5 linked regions of the Homo sapiens genome follow. The protein of the gene in region 2 purifies or fractionates together with the protein of the main gene of each other region. This does not show direct contact. Each region holds a gene or a part of one and is shown on either strand. Other genes may lie near its edges. The genes, in order: TARS1, FAM114A1, RSU1, SEC24D and N4BP1.

The links.
Region 1: the proteins of FAM114A1 (region 2) and TARS1 fractionate together in Homo sapiens (co-fractionation; one large-scale study listed by BioGRID). This does not show direct contact.
Region 3: the proteins of FAM114A1 (region 2) and RSU1 fractionate together in Homo sapiens (co-fractionation; one large-scale study listed by BioGRID). This does not show direct contact.
Region 4: the proteins of FAM114A1 (region 2) and SEC24D fractionate together in Homo sapiens (co-fractionation; one large-scale study listed by BioGRID). This does not show direct contact.
Region 5: the proteins of FAM114A1 (region 2) and N4BP1 fractionate together in Homo sapiens (co-fractionation; one large-scale study listed by BioGRID). This does not show direct contact.

The regions. Positions count from the first base shown.
Region 1 is NC_000005.10:33,449,054-33,455,117, reverse strand, and holds part of TARS1 (threonine--tRNA ligase 1, cytoplasmic), read right to left. Parts: intron 2,778-6,064; coding exon of another isoform or gene 2,679-2,777; intron 1,830-2,678; coding exon 1,706-1,829; intron 174-1,705; coding exon 52-173; intron 1-51. UniProt on the Homo sapiens protein: Catalyzes the attachment of threonine to tRNA(Thr) in a two-step reaction: threonine is first activated by ATP to form Thr-AMP and then transferred to the acceptor end of tRNA(Thr).
Region 2 is NC_000004.12:38,879,944-38,886,560, reverse strand, and holds part of FAM114A1 (protein NOXP20), read right to left. Parts: intron 1-6,617. UniProt on the Homo sapiens protein: May play a role in neuronal cell development.
Region 3 is NC_000010.11:16,806,125-16,812,741, forward strand, and holds part of RSU1 (ras suppressor protein 1), read right to left. Parts: intron 1-6,617. UniProt on the Homo sapiens protein: Potentially plays a role in the Ras signal transduction pathway. Capable of suppressing v-Ras transformation in vitro.
Region 4 is NC_000004.12:118,814,035-118,820,651, forward strand, and holds part of SEC24D (protein transport protein Sec24D), read right to left. Parts: intron 3,379-6,617; coding exon 3,230-3,378; intron 1,693-3,229; coding exon 1,417-1,692; intron 1,125-1,416; coding exon of another isoform or gene 1,122-1,124; coding exon 994-1,121; intron 1-993. UniProt on the Homo sapiens protein: Component of the coat protein complex II (COPII) which promotes the formation of transport vesicles from the endoplasmic reticulum (ER).
Region 5 is NC_000016.10:48,535,382-48,541,476, forward strand, and holds the end of N4BP1 (NEDD4-binding protein 1), read right to left. Parts: 3' UTR 3,345-6,095; downstream 1-3,344. UniProt on the Homo sapiens protein: Potent suppressor of cytokine production that acts as a regulator of innate immune signaling and inflammation.

The sequences.
Region 1 (6,064 bases), on a different chromosome or scaffold from region 2:
ATGGATCCATAGTCATTGACTTCAGTTTTCTTTATCTAGTTGATGGCTTACCCTTCTTCGAGGTACATGTCATAATAGAATCCATTTTCTATTGGCGGACCGTAGCATAAACATCCACCATAGACTCTTTCCATGGCTTCACCCATTATGTGAGCACTAGAGTGCCAATACACCTGAAAATTTAAAGAAAAATGGCATGGTCTGAGTCTTGGCATACAAGTTGCCAATTAATGTGGTTGTCTGAAAGAGACAGATGATAATATTTACTACAAGTAAACCCAATATATAAAATCCTAAATTTCTAAATCTATAAACTACTGTTTCTATCCATAGCCAAAGTAATTCAAAAGGCTTCCAATTACTAGTGTATTTTTATTTTGGAAATCATCTGGTTTAGCTGTTTTCAAACAAATTAAACTAAACTTGGCATCACTAATTAAATGACATAGACTTTGTTCTCTGAAAACAACTGCTACTCACAATGTGACTAACTCATTGATTGCAATGGCCCAGGTTCTTTTGAGTCAATGTGCCCACAGCACCATGTCTCAGACACTGTGATCTGGCCTTTAGCTGGCTATGGAACATCACTTAGAAATTACATGTTGTTACTGGCCCAAAACAAAGGTGGTACAACCCGACCCCACAACACAATGACAAAACACGAGGACAAACATCTGTACACTGAAATCAAATGGCAGTACTTGGTTTTAAAGTAATCACTGGGATGAGTCAGAATACACCCAAAGCAATGTTTTCAAGATTTAGTATTAAGGTACCAAAGTGACATTAAAAAATTCTCGTAAGAAACTTGAGGGCTCCAAAATACATTTGAAAACCACTAATCCACATACATAAGTGAACAATCATCACTAAAACAAAATACTTTGTCTCCCCTTATATGATACACAGCCATGGAGAATTAAAAAGAAAATCTTGTCATCACATGCAGGTTGACTTTTATAGTGTTATCCAGCAGATTTGCATCTTAAGATGAGAAAAAAATACAGAAATTATCCAATAAAGGCAGTGCTTTGAAGTAAGGTTCAAATTTATTTGTCAAATGTACATATCTTGCTAGAGTGTTCATAGCTTAGAGGCCAGGCACAGTGGCTCACACCTATAATCCCAGCACTTTGGGGGGCCGAGGTGGGCAGATCACTTGAGGTCAGGAGTTCAAGACCAGCCTGGCCAACATGGTGAAACCCCATCTCTACTAAAAATACAAAAATTAGCCAAGTGTGGTAGTGCGCTCCTATAATCCCAGCTACTTGGGAGGCTGAGGCAGGAGAATAGCTTGAACCTGGGAGGTGGAGGTTGTACTGAGGCAAGAGCGCACCACTGCACTACAGTCTGAGTGACAAAGCAAGACTCCATCATTAAAAAAAAAAAAAATTAAAATAAAATAGTGTTCACAGTTTAGAAAACAATTTTTACTTGCTTAATCAATGTTTAATACAATTCCCAAAACATTTTCCCTATTGAAGTGTCTAGTAATGAAAAGACTTATTCAGCTTCACCCCTTTATTTTCTAAGGCAAGCACTTTTATTATGTTCCCTAAATGAAGGACAAAATGAAGATTTCAAATATGACAGTGAGACAACAATAAATGTTAGCCACCCAATCGCAGCAGGACTGAGCTGGAAAAGACTTCAAATGTGAATCTGCATCCTAAAATTCAATGAATACTAATCAGCAACTTACTGCCTGAGCTTCCTCATCCTCAAACTTGAGAAGCTCCAAGGTACAATCTTCTTCCAGAGGGCGGTCCAGGTCCCACACAACATTATTTACTTTAGCAATAACGGTGTTGTCGGCCAGGCCTTGACTTAAAAAAAAAAAAAAAAAAAAAAGTCCACACATATATAAGTACACACGAATCTAATTTGAAAACAGGAAAATAAACACTATTTTTATTATATATTGTTTTTTTATATTGATGTATCTCTATTTTTCTGAAATATAATGATAAAAACAACAAATTCCAAAAATGTACCTAAGAACCTAACTGGAAGATCCTGAAAATGCAGAACATTATCATTTGACATTGAATGCCTCCTGTTTAAGCAGATATGGCAACTCTGATAAATAAGCACTATCAATTTCCAATGGTTTGAATAATCTTAATTTCTCCAACAAATAAGTTTTTTTTTTTTTAATTTTTTAGCGACAGGGTCTTGCTATGTTGCGCAGGCTGGCCTCCTGGCCTGAAGCAATCCTCCAACATCAGCCTCTAGAGTAGCTGGGACAACTGGCACAAGTCACCACACCGAGTTTTCTCTTAATACACCCACCTTTCTCTTTCTACAAAGCTAAGCTATGTAGACTCCAAAGGAAAAAAAAAAGGCCTACTAAATAACTTCTCTGTTCCTCTTCCTGCTTAAAATGTACACCAGATCCTTTCTTTGACAGACAATGCTAACCTCAGAATAAATTCTGCAAATGCCTATGATAATATTTATAACAAATATAGAGGTAAAATGAAAGACTATTTAATAAAACTTTCCATATAATGTGAGTAAAAACATTACACACCCAATATACAACATCGAACATAAAGTATCATCAAGTGATGAAATATCAGAGCACACAGAGTGTAAAAGCTACAGGAGTTCTGAGGAGGGAAAGCAGTACAGGTCAGAGTCATCTGGAAAGGCTTTGAGGATAAAGCACTCACAGGAAGAAAAGAGGAGGCCATGGCATTCCAGATGAGGGAATGGCCACAGATGCAAGCAGAGATGCAAGTGAAGAGAGGTTTTTGCAGGAAGCTGTGTGACTAGAGCAGAGTTGAGTAGGTGAGCCAGATTATACATCTAAATGCACAGCTAGAGAAATAATAGTCTATAACAGCCTGGACATCTCAACGAAGGTAGGCAACATTCTACACTGTGAAGAAAAAGTATACACCCTTTACACTGTAAATCTCAAAGAAACCTACCACTAGAAGGCTTTAAGCTAGCCAGGCTTGCTGTGTTGGTGGCTCTCTATGTCTAAGGGTTTACAACAAAATGTATACAACTCCTATCTGAGGATCAAGAGAAAAGAACCAAACAGAAAGTAAACAACAAACTCCTTTCTATTTTCAATGCTCCTACTAACTTTACCATAGGTTATAAACAATGTTTTCTTTCCTCCTGAGATCAGATGGAGTCAATAAAATAAATACATGCATTTCACAAAACATAACATGAATTTGGCAGAGAGAAATGTATTTCATCATATTGGTGTAAAACAGTTTTCAGGAGATTAAAGAACTGATAAAAAGGATAATCATATTCTCTATATTCTTTGGGAAGAACATGACTTTTATCTTATGATCCAATATGGAGCCCCAAGATTCTAAGAATAGAGTTACTCTGAAAATGTAGATTACACATGGGCCATACTGGATCATTTCAATTTTTCAAAGAAGGGTAAAATAATCTTTAAGATTTGTAACAAAACGGCCAGGCGCAGTGGCTCACGCCTGTAATCCCAGCACTTTGGGAGGCCGAGGCGGGTGGATCACGAGGTCAGGAGATCAAGACCATCCTGGCTAACACAGTGAAACCCCGTCTCTACTAAAAATACAAAAATTAGGCAGGCGTGGTGGCGGGCGCCTGTAATCCCAGCTACTCAGGAGGCCGAGGCAGGAGAATGGCGTCAACCCAGGAAGCGGAGCTTGCAGTGAGCCAAGATGGCGCCAATGCACTCCAGCCTGGGCGACAGAGCGAGACTCCTCCGTCTCAAAAAAAAAAAAAAAAGATTTATAACAAAACTTCAAAGAAAAACCTTTTGACGCAAATGGAACATGTCTTTTTTGTCCTTCCCTTTCATATTCACCACTAATTATGTGAATCTTTAAATAGCCTGTTATCAATGTTATAATTTTTCACAGAACAAAAAGTTATTCTGGACTTTTGTAAAAATTTCATAAAGTATTCTCAGTGCAGATCAGTGACTTAACTCCAGAGCTAAAGCCCATCAATGTTTTATGTAATTCAACCTTTTATTTTTTTCCCTGGAGACGGACTCTCGCTCTGTCACCAAGGCTGGAGTGCAGTGGCTCAATCTTGGCTCACTGCAACCTCCACCTCCCGAGTTCAAGCTATCCTCCCACCTCAGCCTCCAAGTAGTTGGGACTACAGGTGTGCGCCACCATGACTGGCTAATTTTTGTATTTTTAGTAGAGACAGGGTTTCGCCATGTTGGCCAGGCTGGTCTTGAACTCCTGACCTCAGGTGATCTGCCTGCCTTGGCCTCTCAAAGTGCTGGGATTACAGCTGTGAGCCAACACGCCCAGCTATGTAATTCAACTTAGAATTTTATAGTTCTTGAAGAATATTTTTCAACTGAAGACTTGATAAATTACAATGTAATCTAGATCAACATTGTAGAAGGTAGAGGAAAAAGTTCCCAAACTAACAGAAGCCTAAATTTTAATGACACGGCTACAATCTCATTGTGTGACAACAGAGGAATCTATTAATCAACCTGACCTTCAAAATTATCTCTAAAATGAAAGGTTGAACTGATACGTAAAGGTCTATCCAGTTCTCTATGCTCTCACATAGAAACTTGCATGGTATTACAACTTTTTACTTCCTTTGGAGTAAGGTAGAAGAACTTGTAGGTAGAAGCACTTGTCAAATGAATGGAAACACTCCATTCACTTTGTAAAAAGTACTAACTAATGTCTGTGGTACAGTAGATGCTCATGGCTCATAGGCCTAACTGGTTCTGCTTCTACTAGTTGTATAATACGCTTACCAAGAATCAGCCACGTTGGTTCCCCAAACTGTTTTTGTGCTTGTTCTTTTACGTGTTTGGTTCAACAATACAAAATTGATGATAATCAACCACATGACAATTCATATGGTGATTCCAAATGGTTCAATTCAATACATAACACTTATAAATAAACTTCAAAAATATATAATTATAAAATAACACAATAAGGGAATTATGGATTCTATGAAAACCAAGTTGAATGTTTGAGAAGGCTTGATAAATCCAAGTCACACACACAAAAACACTGTCAAGTTAGGTGTAACTCTACAACTACATGAAAATCTGCAAGGATTCTGTGCTCAGACTACTTCTCGTATGTGTTAAGATAATGTAAGAACTCTAATTAGCACTCGCTATCCCCCAAACCTTGCCATACATATATATATTCACTGTTTTATGTATGTATATAAAGTTAGTGAATACATACATATTCACATATTTTAAGTTGAAGTGTTTAAGACCAAGATTGGCAAGCTTTTTCTGTAAAAGGCCACACAAATATTTTACACTTTGCAGGCCAAACATGGTCTCTGTTGTATATTCTTAGTTGTTTTATTTTTTCCAACTATTTAAAAATTTAAGAATCATTTTTGGCTGGGCGCGGTGGGTCACGCCTGTAATCCCAGCACTTTGGGAGGCCGAGGCGGACGGATCACAAGGTCAGGAGATCGAGACCATCCTGGCTAGCACGGTGAAACCCCGTCTCTACTAAAAATACAAAAAATTAGCCGGGCGTGGTGGCGGGCACCTGTAGTCCCAGCTACTCGGGAGGCTGAGGCAGGAGAATGGCGTGAACCTGGGAGGTGGAGCTTGCAGTGAGCCAAGATCGCGCCACTGCACTCTAGCCTCCTGGGCAACAGAGCAAGACTCTGTCTCAAAAAAAAAAAAAAAAAAAAAAAAAGAAAGAAAAAAAGAATCATTTTTATTTTTCGCTTTCAGGACATACACAAACAGATTATGACTAGAGTTTCCCAATACCCAGTTTAAGATATATATATATACACGTGTATATATACGCGTATATATATACACATATATATGTTTTACCAACTCTTATTTTGATAAACTGACCAATTATTGATCCCAATCATATCAGATTAAGAAAGCCTCTCCCCTATTACAAAATATGCATCTAATTCTCAGTTAATTGAAATAACTTCTTCCCACCCCAATAAAAGTTTTAAGACTAGGAATAGTCTTTCATTGAATTTATAAAAATAGTACATTTTTTTCATGTGTTATATGAAGTTTCTTAACCTTTCCATGTGAGATTATGTAGCTTCATTTTTAACT
Region 2 (6,617 bases):
ATCACGACATGAACAAAATGTGTCTTTCAAACTTATCTGGTGTCTGCTCCACATCTTTCTTCTTTGTCTCTTAAAAAAGGTGCTTATAGTGGCCGGGCACCATAGCTCACACCTGTAAACCCAGCACTTTGGGAGGCCAAGGTGGGCAAATCACCTGAGGTCAGGAGTTTGAGACCAGCCTGGCCAAAAAGGTGAAACCCCGTCTCTACTAAAAATACAAAAATTAGCCGGGTGTGGTGGCGCATGCTGTAATCCCGGCTACTCGGGAGGCTGAGGCAGGAGAATCGCTTAAACCCAGGAGGCGGAGGTTGCAGTGAGCTGAGATCGTGCCACTGCACTCCAGCCTGGGAGGCAGAGTGAGACTCTGTCTCAAAAAAAAAAAAAAAAAGGTGCTTATCTTCTGTATTCACCTCCCTTGTCCATCCTCCCTCCACAGCAAGACTCCTGTGCCACTACTTCATGAAATCGTTCTCATCAAGGTCAAGTGGCTTCCTGTTGTCAAAGCCACGGACTCATTTTAGTCTTTTTATTACTTACTTGACCTCTCGGTAGCATCCAAAGCTCACCCACTTTTACATCTGCCTTAGAGTGTTCTATTCTGATGGCCTATCTTCTGACTCTCACTTTTTTTCCTTTTTACCATCTTTTAGTATGATTTCAGTTATTTACATTAGAATGCTTCTACATGCATATTGTGACATTATGGGTGCTTCTCAAATTAACCTACAATCCAAGTGCTGTCAGCATTCCAATAAAATATGCACAGTCCAGGGTGGTCAGCCAGCATTCTAATCAGGAAAGCCATACTCTGGAGGCAGCTATTTATAGAGGTTCTATTATCTGTATCTGGTAACATCTGATGCTTTACCAATTACCACACCTAACTGCAAAAATGGGTTTTAATTGGTACACATGGTGGACTATTTACTAGCATTCTCAATATCTGAAAGGGGTTCTAGATGGTAAAAATAAAGGTATTCAAGGAGCTGGCTTCGGTGGCACACTCCTATAATCTCAGCACTTTGGGAGGCCGAGGCAGGAGGATCACTTGAGGCCAGGAGTTCAAGACCAGCCTGGGCAACATGGCAAGATCTGGTCTCTACAGAAAAATTAAAAAATTAGCCAGGCGTGGTGGCATGCACATGTAGTCCTATCTATTTGGTAAGGTGAAGCAAGAGGATCACTTGAATGCAAGAGTTCAAGACTGCAGTGAGCTATGATCTTGCTACTTCACTCCAGCCTGGGCAACAGAGAGAGAGAGAGACTATTTTTTTAAAACAGGACGGGGCCGGGCTTTGTGGCTCATGTCTGTAATTCCAGCACTTTGGGAGGTCGTGATGGGTGGATCACCTGAGGTCAGGAGTTCAAGACCAGCCTGGCTAACATGGTGAAACCTGGTCTCTACTTAAAATACAAAAATTAGCTTGGCATGGTGGCAGATGCCGGTAGTCCCAGCTACTCTGGAGGCTGAGGCAAGAGAATCACTTGAATCTGGGAGGCAGAGGTTGCAGTGAGCCGAGATCATGCCACTGCACTCCAGCCTGGCGATAGAGGGAGACCCTATCTCAAATAAATAAATAAATATAAATAAAAATTTTTAAAAGTATTCAAGATGTGTAAATAGTTAAGTATATTTTCTGCTCCTCCCAGTTTTATATGAATAGGGTGTTACAAAGGATTTTGCCCTGTGTAAATGGTCTTCCATCCATCTTTCAACTCTGGGGAATTCTGGTGACTTGATGCCAGCTATCAGGGAAGAAACCTTAGCTCTGAAATCCAGACAGTTGCCTTGAGTAAACCTTTCATTCAAGATGGTGATCAAAGCACCTAAACAATGGGATGTTCTCAAGCCTACATGAGAAAGAGTTCTCATACACCATTTTCAACTCTCTTGTTAATTACCGTTTCATTTAAAAATGTCAGTGTGGTACAATGTGATCTGAAACTTGATTTCGCTTATAGAATGTGGTAGTGGTGAGATTGTACTATAAATTCTTTGCTAGCTACCATAATCTATTTAAAAAGCAAAACAAAACCCTAAGAGCTGTGCCCAACCAAACTGGCTTAGAGACAGAAACCTTCCAGGGCTGAGGGCTTGGCCTCTGTTGTTATTTATATGTTAACACCTGAGCCATCTTACCCACTTCCATTACTGAAATAACCACATAGGTGCTGATAGCCTCTGAATCACCTATCTCTCCAGACCATTTTAACCAACTGTCCACAAAGTATCTTCACTTGGATGTTGCATGGCATATTTAATACTGAACTCAGGCCGGTGCGGTGGCTTGCGCCTATAATCCCAGCACTTTGGGAGGCTGAGGTGAGAGAAGAGCTTGAGTCTAGGAGTTTCAGACCTGCCTGGGCAACACAGGGAGACCCCGTCTCTACCAAAAACCAAAAACCAACTGAACTCACCATCTTCTCAATTATTCCCCGTACCCCAACTAGCTCTTGCTGTGTCCTAGTGTTAGTGGTTCCCAAACTCTAGTCCACAGACTGACTGTAAGAGTGTCACCTGGGGGAATTCATTAAAAATAGAGTCTCAGCTTCCACTATGATCTTGTGCCTAAGAATCTCTTAGGGTAGAGCCCAGGAATCTGAATTTTTAACAGGCTCCCCACATGATTCCAATACACCTCCAGATCTGGGAAGCACTGCTCTCTATGGCAGAATGGCACCTCCATCCACCTGGTTGTCCAAGCCAAAACTGGGTGTCACCGTTCAGGGAACACAGAATAAGGAACGTAGGCAGTAGGGAACTCTGTCCTTTTAGAGCAGGCCAAAAAGGGAAAATACTCAAACAGAACCGGAGAAAACTCTGCTCATCCGGTTTAGGAGGCTAAATGCTGTCATGTCTCAGCCTGTGTCCCCTACTCCTTGTCTCTCTTGACCATAACTTTATGGCATTTAAACATTCTGCTTCTCCTTTTTTAGGGAGAGAACTATCCATGGTGGTCCACACTCCCATGTTTTCCCATGAGAGTACTCAACAGTGTTAACATTGGGATTCTTGACCTTCTCCATAATCGGCCTTATGCGTTGGTGTTGAGCAGTAGGGATGACATTTTAAAAATTCTGGGTAACCTTTCTTGGTGTTAAGAATTCAGAGAAATTTAATCTAGATTGGGTCTTTTAAGGGTTGACTGGCTAGTATATAATAAGGTCCCATAAGAGCTCTGGGAACAAATGTTACTCCCAACCAGTACTCAAGACAAACATCTTTGAATTGAGGCTGAAGACTTCTCTGATTCTTTAAGACGAATTTAAATGCTCTGTCTAAAGCCTCCCTTGTGCCTGTCCTATCTAGTACTAGAGGACATGTAATCATTGCTCTCATACAACAATGTTTCCCCCAACTAGACTGTAGGCATCCTGAAGATAGTTACACCACCCAGATTTCTGGGCATAATGCATTGTGTCATGATGCTGGCAGAGGCCTTAGAGAATCCGGTCCAACCTCCAATGCTGAGGACCATTTCTCACGGAGGTTGTAGAGTGGGTTCCTACAGGAGAAGGCTCAATTCAATGGCTTCTGAGTCTGTATGTCAGAAAGGACAAGAAAGCAAAGAAGCCCTAAAGATAGAGATAGTTTATCCGAGTGCATAAATGGTGTGGTCCTTAAAAACAGAGGTGCCAGCCAGAAAGGTGGCCTCCTCCTTGACTCTGGCCACCTGCTAGTCGCAACACCCCATCTGCCAAGTTATGGTGGCCTTGCTGCCTGAGGCAAATGTGAGCCTAATGATGTGGATTTTAAGGGGATCCAGATCCAGGTACTTACAAATATATATGCATACACATACACACCACACACACATTTATGCGCATTATCACAAAATCTAATGTGCCTTAGAAGTACGTCCTCAAAGTCTATTCTGCCCGTTTTCTTTTTTTAGTAAAGCAAGCATTCCTCACAGAAACTTTTTTTTTTGAGATGGAGTTTCACTCTTGTTGCCCAGGCTGGAGTGCAATGGTGCAATCTCGGCTCACCGCAACCTCCGCCTCCCGGGTTCAAGTGATTCTCCTGCCTCAGCCTCTCGAGTAGCTGGGATTACAGGCATGCACTACCATGCCCAGCTAATTTTGTATTTTTAGCAGAGACGGGGTTTCTCCATATTGGTCAGGCTGGTCTCGAACTCCTGACCTCAGGTGATCCGGTCCCCTCGGCCTCCCAAAGTGCTGGGATTACAGGTGTGAGCCACTGCACCTGGTCAGAAACTTTTTTTTTTTTTTTTTTTTTTTGAGACGGAGTCTCGCTCTGTCGCCCAGGCCGGACTGCGGACTGCAGTGGTGCAATCTCGGCTCACTGCAAGCTCCGCTTCCCGGGTTCACGCCATTCTCCTGCCTCAGCCTCCCGAGTAGCTGGGACTACAGGCGCCCACCACCGCGCCCGGCTAATTTTTTGTATTTTTAGTAGAGACGGGGTTTCACCTTGTTAGCCAGGATGGTCTCGATCTCCTGACCTCATGATCCACCCGCCTCGGCCTCCCAAAGTGCTGGGATTACAGGCGTGAGCCACCGCGCCCGGCCCTGGTCAGAAACTTTTTTAAAGGGCTGATGAGAATTTATCAGGTGTAGATGTACATGGGGTCAAATAGGCTTTTGCACTTGGCTATTTTCCTGCAGAACCTGCCATTCCTCAGGGGCAGCCTGTGTTCAATCCAAACAACCACCTTGTAATGAACTTTAGATTCAAGAATTTGTTTTGTACAATTCACTCTGCTCTGGAGCAACAGGGAAAGAGTTGTTTTCATCAGTGCAAAATGATTTCTTATGAGTATGCAACAAGAGGCAAATAAAATAGAAAAAAATGAACAATAATCAAAGACTAGGCATAAAATTGACTTCTAATAAAAGGATAAGCTACTAAGAGAGACAGTAGAATCCCCTTTCCTGGTAATCTTTAAAAAGAGACTAAATTTGCACCTACGTAGAATGGTTTAAATAAGACCTGGGTGAAAGTGATATCCTCTCTTCCAGGCCCTTTCAGCCAACCTATCGGCTTTCCTGCCCTTCTTAAAACAAACTCACAGGTACTGTCCCCACTCCTTTGTTCCCTCTGAGCTTCTGACCCAACACAATACATCCAGAGCCACGGGCCCGACTCTGTGGCCAGTGTTTGCACTTCCATCCAGGTAATTCCGTGGTGCTCTATTATTAGGAATTTCTCCCCTTTCCAAGGTCCTTGAAATGCTGTCAGTGTTGTAGGGGGTGGGGAAGGTGGAGTACCTGTTACCAACCAGCTCAATTTCTGTAGCATTCAGGAGGTTTATAAGGTGTTTTCAAAGCAAGATTCATTCCATTTGACCAAAACATTTAAGGCAAATGTGGTAGAAGCATACTGATTTTTTTTTTTTTTGAGACAGAGTCTCGCTGTCACCCAGGCTGGAGTGCAGTGGCTCAATCTCAGCTCACTGCCTCAATCTCAGCTCACTGCAACCTTCACCTCCCAGGTTCAAGAGATTCTCCTGCCTCAGCCTCCCAAGCAGCTGGGACTACAGGCATGCACCACCACACCTGGCTAATTTTTGTGTTTTTAGTAGAGACGGGGTTTCACCATGTTGGCCAGGCTGGTCTCGAACTCCTGACCTCAAGTGATCCACCTGCCTCGTCCTCCCCAAGTGCTGGGATTACAGGCATGAGCCACCGTGCCCGGCCTTACTATGCTATCTTCATGAACAGTCCTGTTATAATTATTATGTCTGAAATTGGAATGTATATGGATTTTGAATTAGTATGGATTTTGAATTAGTAGAGCTTGTATAGTTTAAGTCATCTTAGGTGATAATGGTGTGGCTAAGTTATATTTTTCTTACTGTACCAAGATATTTGTTAACAGTAGCACTTAGGATGAAAATTGGGAACCATAGCTCCCTACATGAGACAGACAGTGTGGAGGCAAAGCAGGCTCTGGAGTCAGGAAGACTCTGTTCAAATCCTCACTCTGCCATTTCCTATTTGGGCTGATTCTTGACATAATCTAGTGGTCCATCTCTTCACCAATACCATGCAAACTGCCAAACCTGCGGCTTATTAATGTCCCACTTTTACTTCCTATGTGTTTTGTGGCTGTTATTGCTATTGTTGTTGTTCTAAGATCAATGGATGAAAAAGTGTCCTAGTAGCCAAAAGAATGAAAGGGCTTGTCTCCAGATACTTTTGAAGTGTTATTGTAGCACCACAGCATTTTAGAGCTGGAATGATACTGAAGACCACTTACTCAAAGAATCATAAAAAGGACTTTGAAAATTCTTTAGCCTAAACTAATTATTCTCAATCCTGGCCAAACATTACAACCACTTGGGGTACTTTTAAAAATTGCTGATGTCCAAGCCCCATTCCTGAATCAGAATCCTTGGGCTTGGGACCCTAGCATCAATATTTTCTATTCTATTCTATTCTATTCTATTCTATTCTATTCTATTCTATTCTATTCTATTCTATTCTATTCTACTCTATTTTATTTTATTTTATTTTATTTTATTTATTTTTTTGAGACAGAGTTTCACTGTCATTGCCCAGGCTGGAGTGCAATGGTGCAATCTCGGCTCACTGCAGCCTTGACCACCTGGGTTCAGGTGATCCTCCTGCCTCTTCCTAAGTAGCAGGGACTACAG
Region 3 (6,617 bases), on a different chromosome or scaffold from region 2:
TGTGTAAGTATTTTGGGAAGATGAAGGTTCCTGTTTCCCTGGTTCAAATGGGATAAACATAGGTAGTGTCCCTGAATGCATTCCTAAATTGTTACAGAATCATTAGCCCAGACAGGACAGCTACCATGGCTTCTAGAACATGACCGGGTGGCCACAGGCACTCAGCATGCTCGCTGAATTAGCCGTTATCTTCATCTCCTCCACAGGGTATGTGCATATGACTGTCAGAAACCAGTAAGGCAAAACAGGAGAAGCTGAGAACACTGCTTCCGACGTCTGCAGGTGTGGCTTCAAATCTGGGCTCTACCACTTATTGCCTGGGTGACTTTGAGCAAGTTAATGATGCTCCTTAAATCTGTTTCCTTACCTATTAACTATATAATGACAATACATTGTGAGGTTTGAAAGATTAATCCATACAGAGGGCTTAGCACAATGCCTGGTATGTGGTAAATGTGTGCGTGTATTATATTAATACACTCCATGCATAGATGGCATGGTATTTCAATCATATTATCTATTATTTTCATCCTCCTAACAAAGAGTGCACAACGTTGTAGAATACAAACATATAATAAATTACATAGGCATCTTTGACACGCCCTAAAGACTTAAGCATTTACAGCTGTTTCATTATTTATTTATTTTGAAAGAGTCTCACTCTTGTCGCCCAGGCTGGAGTACAATGGCGTGATCTTAGCCCACTGGAGCCTCTACCTCCCAGGTTCAAGTGATTCTCCTGCCTCAGCCTCCCAAGTAGCTGGGATTACAGGCATGTACCACCACACCCAGCTAATTCTTGTATTGTTAGTAGAGAGGGGGTTTCACCATGTTGGCCAGGGTGGTCTCAAACTCCTGACCTCACTCAGGTGACCCACCCACGTTGGCCTCCGGAAGCGCTGGGATTACAGCAGGCATGAGTCAGGCTGGGATTACAGCAGGCATGAGCCACTGCGCCCAGCCTCACTTACAGCTGTTAAGAACACCAAGTTACATAGACCACCATTCAAACACTGAGATTGCAAACCACATTACCGTTCTCCGGTCTGCACTGTGTCCTGAAAAACTAAGAGGCGAAACCTCCTTGCAAGTAATTGCTTGTTCTGATGTGTGCCTTTCATTTGGCCTCACCCTTAAAATTATAAGTTACACAGAGTCCAAAGGAATAATTAATGGATATGCAAAGAAACGGATGAAATAAGAAGGATCTTTATGAGGTATGGATACTATAACTAAAACTACCATTTAATGTACTTCAGGTTTATTCTATTTGATACATGAACCAATATTTCCCCAACACAATCTTTTCCAGCCCCATACTTTGTAGTGTTTTAAGCTAATGTTCTAAGTTTGAAGACAAAAGAAAATGAATTAACATACGGTATACAAAGATCTCACATCTGATCATTCCATTCTATTGAGATTAATAGTTTTTCAGGAAACCATAAAGAAAGTGGGGAGGGTTCTGCTAATATTGATGGAGATTAAGTTGCTTCTTATGTTTTCTTCAACAGTTAAAGCTCTGCAACCATCCTGTAAACCCAAGTTTCCAAGCTGGCAGGGCTAGCCCAATAACACTATTTTATTTGCTTAACACAGTGTTTTAAAGAATTCTGAGACGAGGTACGGTGGCTCACACCTGTAATCCTAGCACTTTGGGAGGCTGAGGCAGGCGGATCATGATGTCAGGAGACTGAGACCATCCTGGCTAACACGGTGAAATCCCGTCTCTACGAAAAATACAAAAAATTAGCCGGGCTTGGTGGCGGGTGCCTGTAGTCCCAGCCACTGGGGAGGCTGAGGCAGGAGAATGGCGTGAACCTGGGAGGCAGAGCTTGCAGCGAGCCGAGATCACGCCACTGCACTCCAGCCTGGGTGACACAGCAAGACTCTGTCTCAAAAAAAAAAAAAAAAAAGAATTCTGAAAATGAATGCCTTACGGTAAGGCAGGCCCTAGGAGTCACCTCTCCTTGGCATCCAAGCCTGGCCCTGGTGAGCCCTTCGGGGCTAGGATACAACACAGCACAGTATCACACAGCAAACCTTTCAGACACACTCAAGAGTGAACTCCAACCGGGCGCAGTGGCTCACACCTGTAATCCCAACACTTTGAGTGGCGAAGGCAGGTGGATCACCTGAGGCCAGGATTTCAAGACCAGCCTGGTCAACATGGCAAAACCCCATCCCCATCTCTACTAAAATTAAAAAAATTCGCCAGGCGTTGTGGCAGGTGCCTGTAATCCCAGCTACTTGGAAGCCTAAGGCAGGAGAATCGCTGGAACCTGGGAGGCGGAGGCTGCAGTGACCGTGATCATGCCACTGCACTCTAGCCTGGGCAACAAGAGTGAAACTCCATTTAAGAAAAAAAAAAAAAAAAAAAAACAAAGTGAACTCCGTTTCCACCACTGCCTGAGTGACACTGGGGACTTTATAGAACCTCCATAGCTCTCTACTTTCTCATCTATAAAATGCTGACGGTAGGTGAACCAAAGAGGGATGTTATGAGTGTGAGAAGCACTTACCACAGAGTAGGCACTCAGGTCTGTATCATTTGAGAACCTCTAATCTAGATGTTATGGAATGAACTATGTCTTCCCAAAACTAATATGCTGAAGCCCCAATCCCAAATACCTCAACATGTGACTATATTTGGAGATGGGGCCTTTAAAGAGGCGATCAGGTTAAAATGAGGTCCTTAAGGTGGACCCTATCCCAATCTGACTATTGTCCTCATGAGAAGAGGAAACTGAACAGACTGAGGGACAGCAGGGATGCAGAGGGAAGATCATGTGAGCACAGCAAGAAGACGGCCACCTGCAAGCCCAGGAGAGAGGCCTCAGGAGCAGCCAGCCCTGCTGACACTATGATCTTGAACTTCCAGCCTCCAGGACCGTGGGAAATAAATTTCTGTTGTCAAAATCACCCAGCCTGCGGTGTTTTGTTTTGCAGCCGTAGGACATTAACAAAGTAGGTACTATTAATCCTATTATTGGCCTTTTGGGCTTTGCTAGCACCTCAAACCTGAAATACTGTTTTACAGCATTAAGCATCACACGCTGATGGAATCTGCTCAATGGGGACACTGCAAATTCCATTTCCTTTGATTGGAAACATGCTCTGATCAGCACTTCTCTATTCAGAGGCCACATGCAAGGCAGCTGTGAAACATGCCAACCTCAAAGATGCTCTGGTTGACTGTAACATACGTGAGATTTCTTTCACTGTGAGCTACACAGATAAAATGCCATTAAGACTCCATCTCTCTACCCAAAGACAGAACCTGGCGAATGAAGGTGGAAGAACTGTAGAGGCAGCAAAGCTCTGTGTGGAGATGAGACGAGCTGTGTCCAGCCTCCCAGGGAGCCCAGGAGCAAAACACAGAGGCTCAACACTGACCCCTGCTGCTCACACACTTGATCTAGACCAAATGCTCCTTGGCCACATTTTTACATCATCCTTTGGTTTAAAAAATAAAAAAATTAACCCACCTGCACAAACTTGCTATCCAAAGAAGAGGTCTTTACGCTGAATTAAAAAAAAAGTCATCTCTAGTCTTTTCTCTAACAATGGATCTCCTGTATCTAGATTGTGTTTTCTTTCAACTAGGTTCATGTGAATTTATGAATAAATAATACAGGGTATGGTTTTCAATTATTATCCATACCAATTGTAGCATTGGTTATAATGGCAAAGCAGTGAGTGTTATAGTTCTTATGGTGAAAATATAACTACTTCACATGTAATAGACACCTTATAGTCATCTTAACATAACAAACAATAATTTCTCAGTAGATAATTTTAAAATTCAATATAAGACCAGGCACATTGGCTCACACCTGTAATCCCAGCAATTTGGGAGGCCGGGGGTGGGGGGGGGAGGTGAATCACCTGAGGTCAGGAGTTCAAGACCAGCCTGGCCAACATGGCAAAACCCCATCTCTACCAAAAATACAAAAATTAGCGGAGCATGGTAGCTGGCACCTGTAATCCCAACTACTCCAGAGGCCAAGGCAGGAGAATTGCTTCAACCTGGGAGGCGGAGGTTGCAGTGAGCCAAGATCGCGCCACTGCACTCCAGCCTGGGCAACAGAGTGAGACTGTGTCTCAAAAAATAAAAAAATAAAAAAATAGAAATTAAAAAATTCAATGTAAACTCCCAAACGAACTCTGGTTACATAATGCCTATCATAAAAAAATACATTCAATAAATAGTTACTGCAGGACACAGAGTATTTTAATTATTAGTGGAAAAATTACCAGTTTTCAAAGCATGTCTGCCATTCTCAACAGAAACTTGGCCACAAGCACATCCCAACGAAAATCCTGCTGCTGTTCCCCCAGCAGCCGCCCCCCGGGCTATGCACAGCTCTGAACTCGCCAGTGTGTGGCAACGGCTGTTCCTCTTGACCCTAGCACACTGGGCCCAGCCGCCCAACTTCTCCTGGGAATTCTGACTCAGGTGAGGAATAAGGCAGTGGGTGTGCTGGTTTGACAAGACCATGGGACAGGTGGGCAAAGACCACTGAGAAGTACCATCACCAACGTTTCCAAGAAATAAAGATATTGTTTTGCACTTGTTACACCATCACAGATAAAATGGTTTTTACAATAGTCATGCACCGCTTAATAATGTTTCACTCAACAATGAACCACCCGGGAGGCTGGGGCAGGCAGATCGCTTGAGTCCAGGAGTTCAACACCAGCCTGGGAGAAATGGCGAAACCCCATCTCTATAAAAATTACAAAAATTTGCCGGCAGTGGTGGCATGTGCCTGTAATCTACGCTACTTGGGAGGCTGAGGTGGGAGGATCACTTGAGCCCAGGAAGCCGAGGCTACAGTGAGGCAAGATCATGCCACTGTAGTCCAGCCTGGGCAACAGAGTGAGACCTTGTCTCAAAAACACAAACAAACAATGGACCACAAATATGACAGCGGTCCCACGAGATAACAATAATGTACTATATTTTTACTGTATGTTTTTGTATAAAGACACACACACTCACCATCATGTTACAATTCCCTATGGGATTCCATACAATCACATGCTGTACAGTTTTGTAGCCTAAGAGCAAAAGCCTGAGTCACAAGCACACCATCTAGCCCAGGTGTGTAGTAGGCTACACCATCTGGGTGTGTGTAGGGACATTCTGGGAATGACCACACAATGACAAAATCTTATTATGCATTTCTCATAACGTATCCCCACCATTAAGTAATGCATGAGTGTTCTAATAATAGCAAGTATTAAGACCATCAGGTACCGGGTGGTACACTAGGCCCTTATAGATATTAATTCACAATGACCCTATGAGGTGCTCTTATTATTCCCATTTTATAGATGAGGCACCTGAGGCACAGAGAGGTCAAGCAACTTGCCCAAGGATACACAGCTAGTAGCAAACAAAAAAGATGCTTACAAAAAAGCCACCAGGGCCACTAGAGCCAGAATGTCAGAGGACTGACAAAAAGTCAAATGCCATTACCGATTCAGTCATGCCAAAGGGGCTACACCTCTTCTTTGTTTCAATGAAGCATTTCCAGTTTTAACCCTATCATACAATCAAAAATAGAAGTTGTCAGTTCCATCTTGTTCCTGATAGCTGGAAACTGCTTCCCTCTGGAAACTGCGGAGAAGCCTGCAGGAAGGAGACAGAGTACATGCTCCTTCTCCAGAGCTATGCTTTCTCCCTTAGCCAACCTGAATCTCTTAACTAAAAGCAGTAACATTCCTTCTTCAATAAATTTTTCCCAAGTACTATGCCAAGTAGAGAGACACTTCAGCTAGGCTGGATGGGATGGTGGGTCAGAACTGAGTATTCTCGAGGGGCCTCCTTGAGGAGGTCACAGGAAATGGAGTCATGTGAATAGTTAAGTCCTTCCTTCTTTCAACAAGCACTAACTGACAAGGGGGCAAGGGCTAGCTGGAGCGAGAAAAACGAAAAGGGCTCCCCAGGCCAAGAAGCGGCGTGTTTAAAAACAGAAAGGTGGGCACATACACACAACCTAGAGGAGTGAAAACATAAATAATTTTAAGGCCGGGCACAGTGGCTCACGCCTGTAATCCCAGAACTTTGGGAGGCCAAGGCGGGTGGATCACTTGAGGTCACGAGTTCAAGACCAGCCTGGCCAATATGGTGAAACCCCGTCTCTACTAAAAATATAAAAATTAGCCAGGTGTGGTGGCGCACGCCTGTAACCCCAGTTACTGGGGAGGCTGAGGCAGGAGAATCGCTTGAACCCAAGAGGTGGAGGCTGCAGTGAGCAGAGATCACGCCACTGCACTCCAGCCTGGGCAACAGAGCAAGACTCCATCTCAAAAACAAAAAACAAAAATTAAAAAACAAAAAAATGATTTTAATAGATTATATCTAAAATTACAGGTCCTCCCCAGCTCTTTAATCTATCCCCCAAAGAAGGTCGACATGGATAGCATGTGTTCCAGGTTTAACAAGACTTTTGAGATAGCTCTTCCAGATAACCCATGATCATATTTGTTTATTATTTTGCCTGGTCCTTTAGAAAGACCACTCCCTTGAAAGCAGGTTGTTTTCGAGATTTATCTGAAAAATATTTTAGTCTAACTTGGAAAAAAAATGATAAAGGCTTGACCACCCA
Region 4 (6,617 bases), about 80 Mb from region 2:
TATGGTAGCTTTTCCTGCTCCTTTATTTCTAATTCTTCAAGTACTTATGTTTATCGAACCTATTCAAAGACACAAAATAAACTGTAGCCAATTTCGTTATTATTCCAAAAGGATTTTACATCCCAATGCCATAAGATTGGCAGCTTCCCTGTCTCAGTGACATTGGGCTTTGTTTTATGACTTGCTTCAGCCAAGGGCACATGAGTGGTTATGACACATGCCACACATGAGTGGAAGCTTTAAGAGCTGTTGCACATTTTGGCCAGCTCTGTTTCCTCCCTATGCCACAAAATAGCATGTCCTCAGTAGTGTTTGCCTCTTCACGCTGGATTTTGGAATGATAAGGACGGATGAAGCAGAGCCTAAATCCAATCTGCAGCTGCCACAGCCTACATGTAAACTGAGTGATAAATACATCTTTGCAGTTGTAAGCAAAGTTGGGGATTGTTTGCTATGCAGAATGGCCTTGCAAAGCTTGACTGATAAAATTATTAAAGAGTAACCCTCCAAAGAAATCACTTGAGTGAAGAGTTTAGTTCTAACTTTACATTAAAAAAAATTTGTTTTTTTATTGTGCAAGATGTAAAATATACTTTCAGTCTCTATGGGTTTCTCTTATTGAAAAGGATCCTTTAGTTATCTAAAATAGCATATTTCTATAGGATATAGTCTGTTAATTACTCATTAGATAGCGATACTGCCAAAATATGTCAATGTAAACATTGTAGACACTGCCAAGTTTATATGACACCAAAAAAAAAGAAAAAAAAAATCAGCACAGGCTGCTCTTTCATGGAGACCTTTAGTATGCCCATAACCCTAGCATGCTTTCCCCCATACATGCATATAAGGAAGGAAGCCTTCCCTCTATGTGATGAGTATCTCCTAACTTCTATGCTAATGAACAGGATAAATGCTAACAAACTGATGAGTTGCTGAGAAAAATTAATGCTCCTTTGTGAGTGAGACTGTGAGAGTGAGAAGAGTACTTACTGGGCTAGGGATAGAGTCAGGATCCAGCTTCTTCTGGGGCTGTGGCGGACCAGCCATCTGTGCAGGACCTCCAGGGAAGCCTCCTGGGTAAGACAGTTGTGCGCCTGCCATCTGGGGACCAGAGTTGGCTGCTTGGAAAAAATTTAAAGAGAAATGACTATCATCCCAAATCCAGCATGTAAGACTTGTTGACGATATTATGCTGTTCAGTCAAGCATGTTGTATTTTTCATCTTATTAAAAAAAGCAAGGAGTCAAGTATGAGTGTGGTTCCCCATTTCTTTGCTCTTGCCAAAACTCTTCAAAAACTACCATTTCTTAAAAGTAAGTGACAGATACCTAGTAACATAGGAACAAAGCTGATTTTCAGTTAAGGGTTCCCCTGGGTAACACAAAGCCTTCCCCTGCACCCTGTCCGCCTTACCCTGCTGCGGAGGATATCCAGCACCCAAGGTCTGGCCTGGAAGAGGTGGGGGCTGGTACTGGGCATTTGGAGGAGGAGGCCCAGAGAGCCCATCTGGTCTGTACATTGGTAGAGGCAAAGGTGAGGCACCAGGACCATTGAGTGTGGTGGGTGGTGGTGGAAGAACTTGAGATCCAGGCTGCAAAATGGAAGGCTGTGGAGGTCGTGGAGGAGTCTGCAATGATGTGGCTGACAGAGGGCCAGGGGGTCCCTGGCTTGGAGGAGCCATGCCTGAACCTGTGTGAGAAAGGAGACCAGCCCACTTAAATACCACATTTCTCAACTCTCTGACTTCTGCAAAGTACATGACAGAGATGTTTGTTTTCCTGACATAAAGCAAGAGGACACCCTTAGAAACACATGTTTGGGTTTTTTGCCACAAATTGAAATCTTCATTCAGAAAATAGAACAAACGCTATTTTATACAACTGGGATTTTTTCTTTTTTTTAAGGACAGGGTCTTGCTCTGTCACTGAGGCTGCAATACAATGGCAAGATAATGGACCACTGTAGCCTCAACATCCTGGGCTCCAGTGATCCTCCCACCTCAGCCTCCCAAGTAACTGAGACTACAGGCACACACCACCACGCCAAGTTCATTTTTTTTTTTTTTTTTTTTTGTAGAGTTGGGGTCTCGTGATATTGCTCAGGCTGGTCTCAAACTCCTGGGCTCAAGCAATACTTCCTCCTTGGCATCCCAAAGTGCTGGGATTATAGGTGTGAGCCACCATGCCTGGCCTGGAAAATTTTTAAAAGGTAAAAGCAACATTTATAATTTAAGTAAGGGAATTCATAGAATAAATTTTAACTCAGTTGTGTAATTACATGATATATGCATTAATTAAAGCATCTGTATCTGGTACAAATCTAGAAAATCATATAAAAATTCTATTACATAACAAGCATTACTCAGGTAAATTGCACATTCAATAAATTATTTGCATCCTGTGCGTGACTTGACCAAACAAATTTCAGAATTAGGTAGAAATAACCAGAGACAAGAGAAGGGCCACCAACATGCTCTCCAATCATATTGGAAATAGCTGTAAAACCAGATTATGTTTTCCTTTCTCTGATTATGGGAAACTGGGTTGCTTCTTTGGAGACTTATCCATTTTGAAATGAGTAAAAGACAGAAAATAGAGGGGTTTTAATGATACTTCAGAAAACTAATTTTAAGTAACATGGAAACATTCTTCATCTAGATAAATGGCCGACTGTGCTGTCATTACAGTGGAGCTTTCCATGACTCACAGGATATACAGCATTTCTGTTGATGTAAATCTCAGTACTGTGACTCTTTCCTCTCCTATCTTCTCTTTTCTGCCTCACAACATCTGAGCTTCCACTCTTTCCATGATCTAAACACATAATTAAAATGCACTGTGAAACAATGAGTACTATATTTCTGATTTGGGGGCCCCATCATAAACAATACAAGGTTTAAATTATCCTTATTTATTTCTTAAAATAATTTCACTATTCTAATGTTTATTTGTGAAATCAGCATTTTTTGTCTTTTCTTATTGTTCAATCATTGAATGGAAGGTATTCTGAGGGTCCTTCAATTACCTTGAAATAAGTGGCAGCATGATCAAGAAAACAATTAACTATAGCCATACATAAGATAGATGCTTTATTATTAAAAATGTCCAAATACTACTTCAACACAGTATGCCCTAGTTACATCTATTTTAAAAATGAAGAAAACCTCTCTCATTAAAAATGACCAGGACACAAGGCAGTCAATAAACACTAATAATAAAACTATTACCATAGCTGTTGATTTGCATAGCACTGAGCTGGCTGCCCAGCTGGGTGACAGATGAAGTGGATATAGGACCTGGATAAGAAGATTGTGCAGAGGGTTGGTATGGTGCATGTGAGGATGCCACATTGTTGACAGGTGGAGGGCCTGGAAATCTGAGAGAGGAAAACAGGATGTCAAACAATATCACAGCGTCTCAAGCAAATGGCGTACAATAATGTTAATAGCTTGTAAAATTAAATTAAGCCTGTCTAGTAGGCCTAGGAAAATGACTGATATTATATACTAAATCTTTAATTAAGCTTGACATGAACTCAATATGATCATGTAGCATCATCTTATATTTATGCTCACATGCTGAACATGCCAAGACAGAAAAAAAAAATCCTAATGTGAGCATAAAACCAGTTCTGGAAATCAATTTGGGAAACTGAGCCAACCAGAGCCTTATCTATACTAAAGTTAATCATCAACAGAATGAAAATCAAGAAAACAATACAGCCAGGAGCAGCGGCTCATGCCTATTATCCTAGCACTTTGGGAGGCTGAGGTGGGAGGACAATTTGAGCCCAGGAATTCAAGACCAGCCTGGGCAACATAGTGAGACCCCCTTCTCTACAAAAAATAAAACAAAATAAAATAAAAAATTAGCCAGGAGTGGTGGCGCTACTTGGGCGGTTGAAGTAAGATGATCACTTGAGTCCAGGAGGTCAAGACTACAGTGAGCTGAGACTGCACCACTGCACTCTAGCCTGGGCAACAGAGCCAGACCCTGTCCCAAAGAGAAAAAAAAAAAATCTAAAAATTACATCATGCTTTACCTTTGATTTAGCTTGAACTTATTAGACGTTTATTTTTTCTTGTTCTGCATTAAACAATGGCCGCTATCTGGACAATGTGCCTAGCATGGTTAATCTGCCAAATGCGATTAAAGCCTGCCTGAGAGTCACATTATAAATTCTTATGAATTTTAAATTTTAAATTAAGTTTTCCCAAATGGTATACTCTGATTTCAATTTCTCTATCTGAAAACTGGAAACTATTTCCCCATGGCCCATGTCTTGCCTTCTGCCCCCTACTGCCATTGAGAGGTTAGGAGCAGAGCCTGAGGGAAGCCAGTGCTTGCCTGAAGTCCCACAATTTATTTGTGACAACACTAGGACCAGCGTTTTTCCAGGTCTTCAGTGAGTGCACTATTCAAAGCATCACACTAATTTTATCTTGTCATTTTTCTCCATATGTTTAAATTGAATAATTATTATAAACAAAACAGAAAATTAACCTTCCAACCATTACTCTGAGTGCATGACATTAAGCATATTTGCAGAATAGTATCTCACACTTTGAGATAAATAGGTGAGTGATGAAAATGCTCTTTTCCACTCATACCTCTGAACAGCTTATTTCTGCAGTCTATGTTTTATCGGTAGCCGGAATTGACTTTATAATTTAGGACTCTTCTGTAATGATACAGAAAGGCTGCCTAATAAAATACATGTTGCAAGAAAAAAAAAAAAGAAAATGGTCTTTCCATTCTTTCCATTGTACGCACAAGTACAAGCTATCCTATAGCAGAAAATTGGCTAGAAATAATGGAATGAATAACATTGTAACCCAAAAATACTGTTAAACAAAACTATCCAATTTCTCTCCTGTCAAACTTTTCAAAAAGCCCAACACAGTTAGGCTAAGCACCCTTTGACTTAAATACTTTTTGGAAGAAAATGAATAAAAGATAGAAAATACAAACATTAACTTTTCACAGTAAAAGTTTTCTTTATATCTCTAATCAATTAATGACACTGGTGAAACACAAGCACAAAAAATATAATTCTAGTCCTGCATGACACATTTAAAATATGTTGTGATCACTAAAAAATGATTTCAAGAATTACATTAAAGGTCTGTTTTGTAAATCCATTGTTTCCTAAGACGAAAACATTTCTTCTTTTTAAGAAATAATACTTTTTCGTCTTTTAAAAAAACTTTGTCTGCGGGGCGTGGTGGCTCATGCTTGTAATTCCAGCACTTTGGGAGGCCGAGGAGGGCGGATCACGAGGTCAGGAGATCGAGACCATCCTGGCTAACACGGTGAAACCCCGTCTCTATTAAAAATACAAAAAATTAGCCGGGCGTGGTGGTGGGCGCCTGTAGTCCCAGCTACTTGGGAGCCTGAGGCAGGAGAATGGCGTGAACCTGGGAGGCGGAGCTTGCAGTGAGCCAAGATCGCGCCACTGCACTCCAGCCTGGGCAACACAGGGAGACCCCGTCTCAAAAAAAAAAAAAAAAAAAAAAAAGTTTGTCATAGGGAATAAATGAAGTAATTACACACAGGCAGAATATACATGTACTATAGAATATATTCATGGATGCAATGAGGTATGGTTACAGATGTTGGATTTGATAAGCAGAAACTGGGGATGTTGCATTTATATGGAGAAAAAACCTCCCCAAAACATTTTCAAAGGTGTTTCATAAATGCTAGTACTTTTAAATATACAGTTCTGTGAATCATTTTTTGTTTTTACAATACAGGTAGGACAAAATATATTTCAAACAGGAGTTATAACACAAGCAGCTTCAAGTATTTTTTTTAACTTAACAAAGGTTAAGGATTTAAAATAGAGAATGAGAGACTATATAACCATCAGTTATTACTTTCAACTCATAAATGCCTACTTATGATTCAGTGCCTAACATATACCCCAGGAGTTAGGTTTCAGAAATTCACAAATAAATTATTTCTTTCTGACCAACTTAAATATGGTAAGTCTTAAATAGATTTGGTTTTTAAAAGCAATTATTATCAATTTTAAAATAAATAGAATAGTATTAAATGGCTAACAAACCCCTCATATAAATGCCTCACATAAATGAGGGAAGAGATGAAAGAACATCTTAAACATACAAATTAGTTTAATTTTTTTTTTTTTTTTTTTTGAGACGGAGTTTCGCTCTTGTCGCCCAGGCTGGAGTAAAATGGCAAGATCTCGGCTCACTGCAACCTCCACCTCCCAGGTTCAAGTGATTCTCCTACCTCAGCCTTCCGAGTAGCTGGGATTACAGGTACGCAGCACCACACCCAGCTAATTTTTGTATTTTTAGTAGAGACAGGGTTTCACCATGTTGACCAAGATGGTCTCAATCTCGTGACCTCGTGATCCGCCCGCCTTGGCCTTCCAAAGTGCTGGGATTACAGGCATGAGCCACCGCACCCAGCCAATATTTTTTAATTTCATTACTTTATTGAAAGTCACATAGCATGTTGTACAAAGCTGAGGTGGGAATCCAGGTCCTCCTGCCCTAGTGTAGAAACCTGGTGTGTAACTATAGGTAAGCCACTTAATCTCTGTAGCTCTCAGCTTTCAAATTCTGAAAAAGAGCATGTGAAATG
Region 5 (6,095 bases), on a different chromosome or scaffold from region 2:
GCCAATGCCAGCCCCACTGGTACTCAGGAACCAGGAGGGAGCCGGAGGGGTCCTGGCCTCCCCTGCTCCGTGCCCCACTCTGTGTCCTGCCTCTGTAGGGCCTGGGATTTGAAAACCACCAAAGGTCAGATGAGGCCCTGAGGGACCCTCGCTGGAGCCACATGTATTCTAGGGAACACTCACCGGCCTGGGTGCAAAGGTGCCTTCCTCACCGTGGGACTCAGGATGGGAAGGACTCTCCCAGGAGCCAGGCCCGTTTCTTAGGATTCAGTCCTGGTTGCAACCATTGCAACTACTCTTTAGTAGGGAGGTGTTTCTCAACCATGAGGGCACGCCGGGTCACTTGGGATTACCAGAAAACGTGGATGTCAGATTCTGATCTCTAGGGTCTGGGGTGTGGCCTGGGCAGCGCTGCCCCTGGGGATCCCAGTGCACAGCCAGGGTCACAGACCACCAGCTCTGAGGGCAGCAGCACTAGCCCTTGACAGATGAGGGCCCGAGGCCTTGAGAGGCTGCGTAACTTTCTCAAGGTCACGGAGAATAAGTGCAGGAGCAGGTGATGCCCTCACTCCACGGGCTGGCTGGGCATGAGGCCTTCAGAAGAAGGGCCATTCTGGTTGTTCTCTCCCTTCCCTGGCACTGTCCCCTGCATGAAGTGGCTGCTCAAGACCAGGGATGGAGGAACCCTGGAGGGGCTGGGAAGGTGCAGCATCCGGAGGGGATGAGGGGTTTGGGCCCCACCCCTCACCGGCTGGGCCTCATGTCCCTTAGCCACACAGTGGGAAGAAGTAAGGGTTCCCAGCCCTTCTCAGAGTGGAGGTGTGACATGCCAGGGATCCTGAGGGGCTGGCAAGGGGAGAGGGTCCTGCTGGCATTGAGAGACACCCTGGTTTGGGGGAAGTCCCCTGAGCAAGCCCACGTGCGCAGCTGCTAGGGGCAGGCTGCGGGAGGCCCTCTTCTTCCTGCTGCCTGTTTTGGTGGCTGAAACTTTAGACTGATCCAGGAGCCAGACAGGCGGGCAGACAAGCGCATTCTTTTTGGGGGAGGCCGCCGCCTCCTCTTCTCGCTAGAAGCAGGGAGGAGGGGAGGACAGGGCCTGCCCAGGCCTGACCCCAGACTGGGTTTCAGGCTGTGGGGCCAAGCAGGGCTCCCTGGGGACTCGGGGCTGGGGAAGGAAAGCCCCAAAGGCTGGAGTCTGCGGTTTGGAGTCCTGTGACTCTGGGAGCTGAAGCCACCAGGCAGGAGGGGGTGAAAGGGGGCTGGTTTAAGAAGCCCTAAGCCTCTGGGCTTTTGGCTCCAGCACTGGCTGTGGGTACTTCTGCTCTGTTTCTGGGCAAATCCCTGCCTGCCCAGTCCATTTCCCCAGTGAATGCCCCCAGCCCTGGCATCCTCGGTGTGTAGGGGATTGGAACCTGAGCCGGGAAAAAGGCCACGTACAGTTTCCAATCAACATCAACTCATCTGTGTTTCCCGAAATGAAGTGCAAGGTGGCTCTGATGCATACATGGGCTCACTCCTGACACAGCTTCTGCAGAACTGGTCAACTTCTTTAAAAAAATATGCTCTTGGCATCCTCTCGCAGGAACAGGGCTGGATACGGGCCCACCAAGCAGGAAGTGGGGAGGCAGCTTCCTTCCGCAGCCTCCCTGTGCCCTGAAGACTGACAGCCTTGACCCAGGTCTGTCATGGGCCCTCAATTCTTTTCCTTGAAGGGTGGAGGTATCTTAGGTGCCATACCAGCTGCTGAGTCACCTCTGGTGCAGCTTTGCCTTTCAGGGAGGTGGGATGGCCCATTGGAATTCAAATCCTAAATCCTGGACATCTTAGCTTGAAGAAATGGAAGTTCCTGAGCATCTCTGTACCTCAGTTTCCTCCTCTGCAAAATGGAGATAATAACAGCAGCACTTTAGGAGTGAGGTGAGGATTAAAGGAGACAGAAGCTTGCCGGGCACATGGGTGGTGAGGGCACGACACTGGTTGCCGGCCTCAGCTTTCTCAGCACCCTGCAGGCAGGCAGTGGCTGTGCTCACTTCCTCCGGGTGCTCTCTCTGGTGACGGCACCCGAGGGACTCTCCCAAGTGCCTGCCTTGTTCAAGGAACAATGCCCTCTCTAGAACAGCTGGACTTCCCATGGCCCTGCTGAGGCACTGAAAGAAATGTAGGCCCTAACCTAAGCACCCTCATCATTGGACCACAGGGATAAAGGAGTGCGTTCAGAACCTGGAGGATGACGGCTTAGCACTTGGAGATAAGACCTGGCTGGTGGGGGTGTGGGATGACCTGGAAGGGTGGCGAATAGTTAGGTAGGTGTCCGCAGGGCTGCTGATCAGAGCCCCAGTAGCAGTCACTGAGCGGGGCTCTGGGTTGGGCACAGTTCTAAGCACCACGTTTATTCCTCATGTCACCCTTGAAGTAGAAAGCATTATTATGCCTATTTTACAGGTGAGGAAATCCTCATCTGTAAAATAGGCATAATAAAATAATGCTTAGTTACAGTTCTGAAGTATACAGAAAGTCAAACTCCAAATGAACAGTGCTGGCATTTGCCCAACTAGGGAACTGGGGAAAAGAACTGCCGTCAGGGGACTGAAGAGGCAGTGGGATGGGCACAGAGCCACGGCAGCAGGGAACAGCTCGAGAGCCAGGCCGAGTTCTCTGCTGAGGGGCACCAGGCCTGAGTTTCAAGTTACTCAACTCCGAAATAGTTGGCCCCTTCCAGCATTTTCTGACTGGGGTGGATACTCCTGAAGCCCTGTTTGTGCAGGTCTTTGGACCTTTCTAAACAATCTGCAAATCCTTGCTAAAGACAGTAACACGTGTTACTCAAGACTCGATTTCAAAGGACGTAAATCCAACTGGAATGACCAGCTTAAGCAAAAAGTGTGTTAGAATACTGGGGTGTGGTGACGTCCGAGGAAGGGCTTTCCTGACAACAGGAACCCAAGGCTCATGCTGCCAGGAACCTCTCTCACGTCGCCGCTTCTTTCCTGCCACAGGTCGACTTCCCCCAGGGTGGAAAATGGCTTCTGACAGACCTGGGCCTGGCATCCCACGATTCCCACCACCACAGAGGAACTCCCCAGGAGTGACTTGGACTGGCATAGGTTGGGCCGGCTGTCGGCCCTGGCCAGGAAGCCTGAGTGCATCTAGTATGCAGCCTGCGCCAGGTACCCCTCCCCGGACCTGTGTGCCCAGGATGCCATGTGCTGGAGCCTGGCAGGGGAGGGAGAAGGGAGTGGAGTGACCCCAGCCCCACCCCACTGTCCCACTGCAGGGCAGTGGATTCCCGGCCTCTTACTGGTCCTGCTGCCAGATGCCGCAGTCAAGAAGGCACTGTCCTCCAGTTCAGTTGAGCAGACATTTATTAAGCACCTATCAAGTGCAAGGCACTGTGCTAGGCGCCGTGGGAAATACAGAGAACACAGGCGGTCCCTGCCCACGAGGAGCTCACAGTCTAGAAAGGGCAGCAAGACAGTACACAATCAGTGGCAGCAGCACCAGCCAGAGTGGCAAGTGCTCAAAGCGAGACACAAAGTGCTGTGCGGTCACAACATCATGGGGATGCTTCTGGCAGAAGCACTGGAAAGGAGACGAGGACTCAGGCTGGGCCTTCCAGGAGGGAAGCCATTTGGGAGAAGGGCATCTCTAGCGGAGAGAGGTCCATCTGCAGAGCCCACAGGTCATGGGAAACATGTGGCTGCAGGGAGAGTTTGGGGACAGTCAAGTATGGCTGGGAGGTGGACAGCCACGGACACTAAGCTCAGGAGATGTGAACTTTGTGGTCTGGTCAAACAGCCACTGCAGATCACTTCGCAGGAGGAGGGGTGACTAGAAGTATGTTACTGGAAGGTAAATCTGGCCACACTGCAGCATCTGGACGGCAGAGGGCAGCGCTGGGAGGGGCCAGCCAGTTAGGGCCCACCACCCCTGGGTGTCTGAGAGTGGGAGTAGCGGGCAGGGGCCAGCAAAGCACGAGGGCAGAGCAGGGGACCATACGGAGGGTGGGTGTGGAAGAAGGGAGGGGCCCCATGCAAGCTGCAGGTCTGGGGAGCCTGAGGATGTCATAGGGCTTCCTGGTAGAGTGGAAAGTGCACTCCTGAAGGTCAGGGCCAGTCACTACAGAGAGGGGACAGCGAGGAGAGGGACGGTGTGGCCCTAAGGGTGACTGCAGTTTCTCAACATGTGGTCCGTGGATCACCTGCATGGGAACTGCCTGGGGAATGCGCTCATTTGCAGATTCCCGGGCCTTCCTCCAGAACTACTGGGCAAGCATCTGCCGGGTCATGCCCGGTAACCTACATTCTTAACACCAGCTGCCCTCTCCACCACCACGAGCCCCAAAGGTGGGGAAAAGTCTGCAAGCCACCTGCAGAGGAAGAATAGGGTGTTAAGGACTGGCTTTAGGCAAAAAGAAGAGACAAAAAGAATGAGGGAGGTCTGGGAGTGAGGGAAGTGGTGGGAAGCAGGGAAAGTCCGGTCAAGCCATGTGCACCAAGACAGAGCCCCAGCGCGGCCTTGCAGCCAGGCACCGGGCCGTCCCCAAGGGCTGCTCTCAGTCCGCTTTCACTTGGTGGGCGAAAGCCACATTTGCAAACTGGGAAGTGGAGAGTGGGAGGTGAGGGGAAGCACTAGCAATGAATGAAGAGGATTCTTCCGGGAATCAGGCTGTTTCAATCTAAAACATCCAAGATAAGTGGAAACACTGGGGAGGAAGGTGATGAACAGACGGAGGTGAGCCAGAGACACCTCCTGGGCAAGTCGGCCAGGAGGCGGGAGGCGTGGGTCAGAGACACTGCAGGAACTGGGTGAGGACAAGGAGGTGCGAGGAAAGGGGTTGGGGGATGGTCCCACAGGCAGCCACACCTGAGGCGTGGGAGGCAGGTAGGAGCTGGGGGAGGGCGGGGAGAAGAGGGGTTTCTGTGTGTAGATCTGAGTCCTCCCTCACATCCCAGCCGTGCCACAAGCCGCATCGGCATGAGGCCGGCTCTCCCTTCTTCACTGGTCTCAAAAGCCACCCAGGCCCAAGTCCCGGCCAGACAGCCGAGCCTGCCTAGCAACGCTGACCGGCCGCCCAGGATGGCCCAGACACCTTCTGTCTCCTGAATGCAGCCTACAGGGGTTCAAACAGACTGCTTGCATTAAGGTCAGACAAGGCTCTTTTACTTCCAGAGACAGCGGCCTGGAGCCTCGGGAAGAATGTAGGCCCAGGAATCACCCAGCCCCTCAGGACAACCTCTCTGAGCAACAGACATCCTCCCTGTTGAATGAGAGTGACATCTCTGCCCTGCCACCTACTTTACATGGATGCCACGAAGTGGGAGAGCCTGAGCAGTAGACAGGGAAGAGGCGAGCGGCCCCACTGCAGGAGGTAGACAGGCTACAGATACTTATGCAGCAGCCACACTGAGGCTAGTACTGGAGGAGGCTGAGAACCAGTAATGAGTTCTTAATGGTTTGATAATTTGGGTTTTTAAATATTAAATATTAAATATCAGGGGTTTCGGAAGGAATGATGAATTCCGTCTCATGCTGTAACTGATGAAGGCAACCAATGAGCAATCCTTCCTTCCCATAGCCGAGAAAGGGAAAGGGGACAGGCCAATCCCTCTGAAGCAGTAAGTCAGAACACGAAGACTTACAGAACTCAAACATCAAAGGTCAAGTAGCTTCTAGCCAGGAAAAGTGGTGGCCCCCTCAGCCTAGCCAGCACCAACCAGCATGGGTGGAGACTCAGCCTGGCAGTAAGGGCATTTCCTGGGTTTCCTCTGAAGCAGAGGAGAAATAGTGGGTCAGCCAGGCTGCTGGACTGAACCATGAGCCAGAAGGCCAGAATCACTGCAAGACAGCTCCAGCCCGCACACCTCAGTTGTGCTTTTGAAAACAGGTACAAAGCTGAGGCATGGGAGCTGTGACTGAAGTCGCCCTCCTGGCTGGCCTCGTCTTCTACCTCTGCTTCCACAGCTGGGTGACTTGGCCATAGGCCCAAACAATGGACAACCAGTTCCACATTAGGAGGCATCACGGACGCATCTGAGAGGAAACATGATTGAAGGACAAGCTTGGCCTCATGGAGGGCTCTGGATTCATCCCTTGAA